Regions from separate parts of the Homo sapiens genome. Here regions 1 and 3 are each linked to region 2. Evidence: fine-mapped expression QTL. A gene starts in region 2. Each other region holds a variant in brackets. All regions are shown on one strand. Distances are from middle to middle. Region 1 overlaps RAD51D (RAD51 paralog D). Region 2 holds the start of RAD51D (RAD51 paralog D). Region 3 overlaps UNC45B (unc-45 myosin chaperone B).

Region 1 (2,760 bases), 23 kb before region 2:
CATCTGAGGTCAGGAGTTCGAGACCAGCCATGGCCAACATGATGAAACCCCATCTCTACTAAAAATACAAAAAATTAGCCGGACATAGTGGCAGGCGCCTGTAGTCGTAGTCCCAGCTACTCAGGAGGCTGAGGCAGGAGAATCACTTGAACCCGGGAGGCAGAGGTGCAGTGAGCTGAGATCACGCCACTGCACTCCAGCCTGAGCAAGAGCAAGACTCCATCTCAAAAAGAAAAAAAAAATTGACCTGAGGAGGCTTTACTTGGGCCCTTAACAAACTGCAGCCTTAGTATGCAAACTAACTGAAAACCTAATTTAGGAGTATACTTTTGTAACAGATTGCTGAGGCTCAGCCAATCACATCATCAGCTTCAGTGGGTTCCAGGCAGCCAACTATTCAAACCATTTTCAAATAAGGCAAAGGCAGAGCTGTAACCAATTAGTTGTCTTTGTATCTCATTTCTGTTTTCTGACCATAAATGCTTTCAGACTATGTTGCAGCTCTGGAATTCTCTGAACCTGTCCTGGTTCTGAGGGCAGCCCAATTCTAGAATTGCAAATAAAAGTCAATTACAATCTGCAAAACTATATTTGCTTTAATTTTGTCTTTTAACACCTTGTTTTCTTAATTTTTATTATTTTATTTTATAGAGATAGGGTCTTGCTATGTTGCCCAGGCTGGTCTGGAACTCCTGGCCTCAGGCGATCCTCCTACTTTGGCTTCCCAAATTACTGGGATTACAGTCAGGAGCCACAGTTCCTGGCATGTTAACACCTTGTTCTTTAAAGGACACACAGGAGGCGATCCTTCTCCTGCCTGTAGATATTGTCACGTCTGGATTGATGCTCAAAATGGCTGCAGCCAGGCTTTCATAAGGGGAACAAGCTTGAAGACAAAACCAACATAAAAGAACAGAGCAGAAGGATGCAAAGGCTCTACGCCATTTGACAATGAGCCACTAAATTAACAAACCTCAGACTTCCTGTTATCAGAGATAATAAGTGTCCCTGCCAGGCATGGTGGCTCATGACTGTAATCCCTAGCACTTTGGGAGGTCAAGGCGGGTAGATCACCTGAGCCCAGGAGTTCAAGACCAGCCTGGGCAACGTACAGAGACCCCGTCTCTACAAAAAATACAAAACTTAGATGGGTGTGGTGGCACACACCTGTAGTCCCAGCTACTTGGGAGACTGAAGTGGGAGGATCACTTGAGCTTGGGAGGTAGAGGGTACAGTGAGCCGTGATTGTGCCACTGCACTCCAGAGCAAGACTCTGTCTTGAAACATAAAAGAAATAAATATAAATAAGTGTCCCTAGTATTTACACTTCTTTAAGCCTAGGTTTTGTTACTTGCAGCCTTAATGATACATGGACCTTTGCCTGAGTCCTTGGGAATTCAAATGCCTGATTTTTAATTAAGGCCATCAAGTGCTAGCACATAGTAGGATCTCAACATTAATTTCATCTGATGTCAGACGAAGGGCATACAATAGTCCCCTGTAAAAAGATATGTAAGAAGACACTCTGGGGACTCAATGATGTGGGTGTGAACATATATATATATTTTTTAGATGGAGTCTCACTCTGTTGCCCAGGCTAGAGTACAGTGGCACAATCTCGGCTCAC[T/C]GCAACCTCCATCTCCCAGGTTCAAGCGATTCTCATGCCTCAGCCTCCCAAGTAGCTGGGATTACAGATGCGAGCCATCACACCCAGCTAATTTTTGTATTTTTAGTAGAGACAGGGTTTCACTATATAGGCCAGGCTGGTCTTGAACTCCTGACCTTGTGATCCGCCCACTTTGGCCTCCCAAAGTGCTGGGATTACAGGCGTGAGCCACTGCGCCTGGCTCATATGTGTATATATATGTGTGTATATATATGTGTGTATATATATATATGTGTGTATATATATGTATATATATGTGTGTATATGTGTGTGTGTGTGTGTGTATATATATATATATATGTATATGTATATGTATATTTTTTTCCTAAGAACTAGAGAGTGCCCTCAGGTCTCAAACCACCCCCGCAGGGGAAATTGAAAGTTGACGCTTTATGGAAGGAACCCCTGAGATAGAGCCAGTCCTTTGCTTTTTTAAAATATATTTTTAAAACATCATTCATCTATTTAATCATTACTGAGCTTCCATAATGTATAAAGAGAAAAAGTGACAAAAAGTGGGAGCCTGTAGGCAGACACGTGAACAGAAAGTACAAGTGAATAACTAATACAGGGAAGTTACTGTAAGCATCTATCTAGATCACAGCTGAGGCATAAAAAAGGATGTCAGGGTGGGTGTGCACCAGACACAGTGGGAGCTGGGCAGAGACAGACACATAAGCAAAGGGAGCAAAAGGCACTTGGACAGGAGAGCCAGCCTAGCCCAAGTCCTACCAGGGGACTGCACAGTGTGGTGTGGCCGGAACAGAGTGCAGTGGCAGCAGGCAGGCAAGACAAAGTCCTGGTCTAGGAGGAGCCAAAGGATGAAGCTGGCTGTGAGGGGCACAGCCTGCAGGAATGTCACGTGGTGGTCTCAAGTAGCAGTGAATGCAACACCTTCCCATGGCCACAGAAACTCCTTGGGTGACAGCTGTGGTGCCTTCAGCTGGAGTTACAGCCCTAGCAGGAATAGAACTGTATGGACTGAAAATTAAATAAAATGTGGGGATTTTTTTTTTCTTTTTGAAACAGAGTCTCTGTTGCCCAGGCTGGAGTGCAGTGGCATGATCGCAGGTCATTGCAACCTCTGCCTCCTG
Region 2 (2,757 bases):
GCAGTAGCACGATCTCGGCTCACTGCAACCTCTGCCTCCCGGGCTCAAATGATTCTCCTTCCTCAGCCTCCCGAGTAGCTGGGATTGTAGGCGTGGGCCACCACACCCAGCTAATTTTTGTATTTTTAGTAGGGACAGGGTTTCACCATGTTGGCCTGGATGGTCTCGAACTCCTGACTTCTGACTCCAAGTGACCCACCCGCCTCGGCCTCCCAAAGTGCTGGGATTACAGGCATGAGCCACCGCGCCCAGCTGGCTTGGGATGGACTTTTTAAAAAGACACTCAGGTTTGGAATGTGGAGATCAGGAGCTCACCTTGTAAGACAAGCCACATTTCTGAGCTACCTCTTCCAGGTCTGCAGAAACCAGGTCCACCACTGAAAACAAAACACGTATAGCGGATTGGCAGAGAGGACTGGGGCCTCCCACACTTGGTTTTTCCTCATCTGTCAAATGGGGTGTCAATTCTACCCCCCGGCAGGCCGTCTCAGGAGGCCAGTGTGAAATAACAAAGCTGCAGGAGCCGGCGCGGTGCCCTGCACACAGTAGGAATCTCTACCCTGTTTTAGAGCTTGGCTCCCCACGCCCACCCTTCCTGAGCCTCTCCAGAAGCGCGGCCCTCTAGGAATGGAGGGGAAGCGCCCTGCAGGTATGCCAGGGCAGTGCGCCAGCCCTCGGGGCCTGCCCAGGTTGTGCGAGGCCCGCGCGGCTCCCTGGCACGCGCACACCCGGTCACCTGTCTTGATCCTGTGGCTCCTGAGAAGCTGGATCATCTCCTCGGTAAGGCCAGGGCACAGTCCGACCCTGAGCACGCCCATGTTCCCCGCAGGCCGGAACAGCCCCAGGGGGACTGCACGTCACGTGGGCATTCGCGGGGGGTCCTCTCCAGACGCCCCTCCCCTACCCCTTCCTAGAGAGGACACAGGCGCGCTGGCTGCCGGAGGAGAAAGGAGAGAGGAGGAGGCGGCACCAAGGGTAGGGCTGGGGGTCATCCGCCCGCCCGGGATCCGCCGGGATTCCCGCGCCCAGAGCCCGCCCGCCGGGTCGCGCCGCGCTGCCGCTTCCGGGTTCCAGGCTGGCGCGCGGCGAGGACCTGGCCTGCAGCGCCATCTGCGGGCCGCACGGGGCAGAGCCGCTGCGCCCCTCTCCACCGCCTGCACAGGTTCCCGAGTCCCACGACCCCCTCCGCGCTCAACACGCCACCCGCGGCCACATTCGGCCTCTACCTTCTGCCGCAACACACACACCGACCTTCTAAAGAGCCTTCTGTGCGCCAGCTTCCGTTCCAAACGGAACGGATCTCCGCTGGAGACAAAATGCGACACAAGACGACCCGCCCTTACCCCCAGGGAGCTTACTGTGAGCAAGGGAAAGACAGACAATGAAAAGGAATCGCAGAAATCACATCATTACAGATTATACGACAGGTGTCAAGAAGCAGCAAAGCATCCAGAGGGCACCTGCGTCTATTTTTCAAAAGTTTGTTTTGTTTTGGTTGAGACAGGGTCTCGATCGGCCGCCCAGGCTGGAGTGCCCTGGTGAGATCTCAGCTTTGCAGCCTCGACCTCCTGGGTTCAAGCGATCCTCCTGCCTCAGCCTCCTGAGTAGCTGGGACTACAGTCACGTGCCACCTTGCCCAGCTAATTTTTGTATTTTTTGTAGAGGTTTCGCCTCTACAAAATGGGGTTACACCATGTTGCCCACACAGGTCTCGAACTACTGGGCTCAAACAATCCTCCTGCCTTGGTCTCCCGAAGTGCGGGGATTACAGGTGTGAGCCACCGTGCCCGGCCTCTATTTTTTATTTTATTTTTTATTTTTTTTAAGGGCAAGAAACCTTGGTTATATAGAACACACACAAAAAGATATGATTTGGTATTTTTAAATGTCCTTTGCTTTGCCTCATCCATAGGAAGAAATAAAACTTTACATGGTTATCTCATCACAAATCTGTGAGGGAGGCGCTATTTTTTATCCCTGTTTCACCAATGAAGAAACTGAGGTTCAGTGAGGTTAAATCACTTGCCAAAGGTCACCCAGCTAGGCGGCACAGGGCTGGACTTCACATCCACATCTGACTCTGCAAAGCCAGTGCTTTCTAACAGCCCCCCTCCCCACCCCTGAAGCTGTGTACATGTTTTCCTACTGTAAGGTGGTTTCTCTGAGAGCAGAGATCATGTGTGGCCCATCTCTGTATCCCACTGCAACTGCCACCATTGTCACTCCACACAGGAAAGTACTTGGGAGTGTGGGTGTGGCACATTTAGAATTCTAGCAGTGAAGTCTGATCATATGTGAGCCATGAACCCCTATGAACCATGTGGGCTTTCCCTTTCACTAACCGACTGGGCACAGTGGAGTCTGCAGCCTATGGTTTCAGGATAGAGAGCCTTAGCTTCTACGGACAAAGTTTCCCTCCCCAGCAGACACTTTCCAATACTGCCTATCTCTCAGGGCCACACCACCATCCTCTACATCCCACGCCCATCTCTCACCATCCTTATTCTCCTTCCCAGGGCAGTGCGGAAGGACACAGGTGTCAGGCATTTTGAGATCTTCAGAGAAGGGCAGGGCTGCCATCACCATGGAGTATTAGAGCTGGAAGGGGCCCAAGGGCTCATGCAGTCTGTTCCTTGGTTTTACCCCTCTCATGATGCTGCTTCACAGTCACACTGGCCCTTGGTCTGGCCAGCCACATAGCTAGCCTGGCAGCAGTAGCCTCAAATCAAGGGGGGAGGCTGGCCTGTAATTGTTACA
Region 3 (2,760 bases), 52 kb after region 2:
GTTATTTCCCCCTTTCTGGCCCTCATTTTACCTGATTGTAAAATGGACTCCCGACTCCCAATGCCTTCCAGAGATGGGAAGATGCACAGGAGGGCAGTTTGTTTTCCTGGGGCCCTCAGGAGGTGAGGTCTTGAAGGACCTGAGGCAGCTAAAAAAAAAAAAAAAAAAAAAAAAAGCAGGGCATCGTAGCACGTGCCTGTAATTCCAGCACTTCAGGAGGCTGAGGCGGGCGGATGGCTTGAGCTCTGGGGTTCAGGACCAGCCTAGGCAACATGGTGAAACCCCAACTCTACAAAAAATACAAAAATTAGCTGGGCGTGGTGGCACATACCTGTAATCCCAGCTACTCGGGAGGCTGAGGTGGGAGGATTGCTTGAGCCTTGGGAGATCGAGGCTGCAGTGAGCTAGAATTCCAGCTCTGCACTCCAGCCTGGGTGACAGAGAGAGACCTTGCCTCAAGAAAATAAATAAATAAAAGAGGCTGTGCCTGGCCTTTCTGGGAACCTGCCCTCCCTCCCAGGCCCCCCCAGACTCCTTTCCTCATCTGCTGGGCCAACTCCCTGGCCCTTTTCTACCAGTAAATGGAGGAAGCATGGGAGAGATTTTCACCAGGACCGGAAAATGTCCAGCTCCCACCCCATCTCCAGTTGGATGGGAAAGTGTTAGACTGGGCTTGTGGAAGAGGCGCAAAGCGAGGATCTTTGTGGGACAGCTCCTATTCATACTGTCAGAGCTACTGTGGAGGGTGCAGGAGACACTGCTGCCTGCCTTTATGGGGAGAACCGTTCCTCTCCTGCGCTGCTGTCTTTCCTCAGAATGGGCCCTACCAGCTGCACTCCTCCGACACCAACCTGCCGGCCACGTGAGGGAGCATCCTGGAAGCAGAGGTTTGTCCTAAAGTTTCCTTTCTGCTTTCCCTCTCCCCAACCCTGTGCCTTCCAGACCAGTGACAAGACCATCCTGTACTCGGTGGCCACCACCCTGGTGAACTGCACCAACAGCTACGATGTCAAGGAGGTCATCCCAGAGCTTGTCCAGCTCGCCAAGTTCTCCAAGCAGCATGTGCCCGAGGAACACCCCAAGGTAGGGTCAGGCGCGACCCGGGAGGGGTCTGGTCTGTGCCACTAGGCCTCCAAAGGAGGCGGAACGGCAAAAGGAGTGGTGTCAGGAGTGGCACGGTGTGTGTTTGGGTGGTTGGGGGTAAGATACACATACATTGAATATGTTAATGGTAAACTTTCCC[A/C]CCAGATGGTGCTCATGCTTTTTCTTTGTTTTTATTTTCTATTTTGAAAAAAATCCAACAATTTATAGTCTGAGAAAACAAACAGAGCCATGATGGACACTTTGCAATTTGTGTTGTTGATTTTATGGATAAAAGACAGTTTTATTTCATGTCTCCAACAGATAACAATTTGATTTTCTCAGATTTCTGGATTTTGTGACATGGGTGCTAAGTAGGAATCATGAGAGGAGAGGCATGGTCAGCATTAGCCCAGAAGTCACAGATCCCCTGGAACCCTCTCCAACAATTCCCTGCACATGAAGATATGATTTGTGTGTGATTTGTTTAAGAATATATGCAAGATATTGCCAGCCAATAAAATCATTTAGATTTTTTTAATGATCAAAGTAATATAATCATGCTGCAAAACGAGTTAAAATGTGGGGAAAAGAAAATAACCACTCATGATTACGTCATCTCCACATGACTGCTGTTGGCATTTTGATGTTATGTTACCTACCAGAGGCTTTTTTTCTATGTATCTTTTTTCCTTTCACAGTTATAATTAGAATATATTTATCATTTTGTGCCCAATTTTGGAAAAATATGTTTTTCACATTGCCATCTCATTCTCTGAATCATTTTTATTTTATTTATTTATTTTTTGAGACAGAGTCTTGCTCTGTCACCCAGGCTGGAGTGCAGTGGTGAGATCTCGGCTCAATGCAACCTCTGCCTCCCAGGTTCAAGTGATTCTCCTGCCTCAGTCTCTCAAGTAGCTGGAATTCCAGGCATGCACCACCATGCCCGGCTAATTTTGTGTTTTCAGTAGAAACAGGGTTTCACCATATTGGTCAGGCTGGTCTCAAACTCCTGACCTCAAGTGACCCACCCACCTCGGCCTCCTAAAGCGTTGGGAATCCAGGCATGAGCCACCACACCTGGCCTCTGAATCATTTTTGAAAGCTGCATGATGTTTCATCCAGGCAAGGGTGCAGAGCATGTGCTGTGGCTGTGAAGTTCCAGTGTGGCTTCCAGGGCTTGCCCAGGGTTGTCAGCCCCTTCCCCACCACTCCTCACTCTGAGGATTATCTGTAGGGACTCTTTAACCCTGGGTTGACTTTGGGTTTCCAGCAAACCCAATCCATTGTTATGGCGGCTTCATCCACTGTGTCCTTTCCTGCCTATACCCTCTCTCTACCTCCACTCCCACCTCAGCCTTCTCCAAGAAAAACAATATACGCATCATTTAGTCTTTTGGATTATCCGTCTTTTATTTCATTCCTCTGTGAATGAGAGAATCTTTGGGACTGGTTTTCTACGGTATCAGCTCCTCAGGCTCTGTCTTGGGATTAGGTAAGGCAAGGAAGAAGAGAGGAGAGACAATCACACACGACAGCAAGGCGTGCTGTATACCCCTTGGCAGTTGCTTGGGAAGAGGGAATCTGGAGAAGTGTCTTAGTTTCCTATTGTTTCTAGAACACATTGCCACACGCACTGTGGCCTAAAACGCAATTTTTATACTTTTTTTTTTTTTT

What was found. PIP is the estimated chance that this variant, and not a neighbour inherited with it, causes the effect.
Region 1: its variant is fine-mapped to the expression of RAD51D in whole blood (TOPMed, PIP above 0.99).
Region 3: its variant is fine-mapped to the expression of RAD51D in whole blood (INTERVAL, PIP above 0.99). The same link has a PIP of 0.9 or more in blood mononuclear cells.

What each region holds. Positions count from the first base shown.
Region 1 is chr17:35,095,569-35,098,328 of GRCh38, forward strand. RAD51D (RAD51 paralog D) reads right to left here. Exons shown (of 10, transcript NM_002878.4): 10 at 1-2,760. All of the region lies in intron 5 of RAD51L3-RFFL (RAD51L3-RFFL readthrough), which reads right to left. Among named protein-coding and RNA genes, the nearest start is that of RAD51D, 23 kb to the right of the region's middle. The variant T/C (reference allele first, on the strand shown) is at 1,628.
Region 2 is chr17:35,118,796-35,121,552 of GRCh38, forward strand. RAD51D (RAD51 paralog D) reads right to left here and starts at 1,065. Exons shown (of 10, transcript NM_002878.4): 1 at 737-1,065; 2 at 316-377. The coding sequence starts at 818. RAD51L3-RFFL (RAD51L3-RFFL readthrough) reads right to left here and starts at 2,727. Exons shown (of 7, transcript NR_037714.1): 1 at 2,496-2,727. RefSeq lists a silencer at 928-1,127 and an enhancer at 1,338-1,397.
Region 3 is chr17:35,170,380-35,173,139 of GRCh38, forward strand. UNC45B (unc-45 myosin chaperone B) reads left to right here. Exons shown (of 20, transcript NM_001267052.2): 13 at 943-1,083. Among named protein-coding and RNA genes, the nearest start is that of SLC35G3, 23 kb to the right of the region's middle. The variant A/C (reference allele first, on the strand shown) is at 1,244.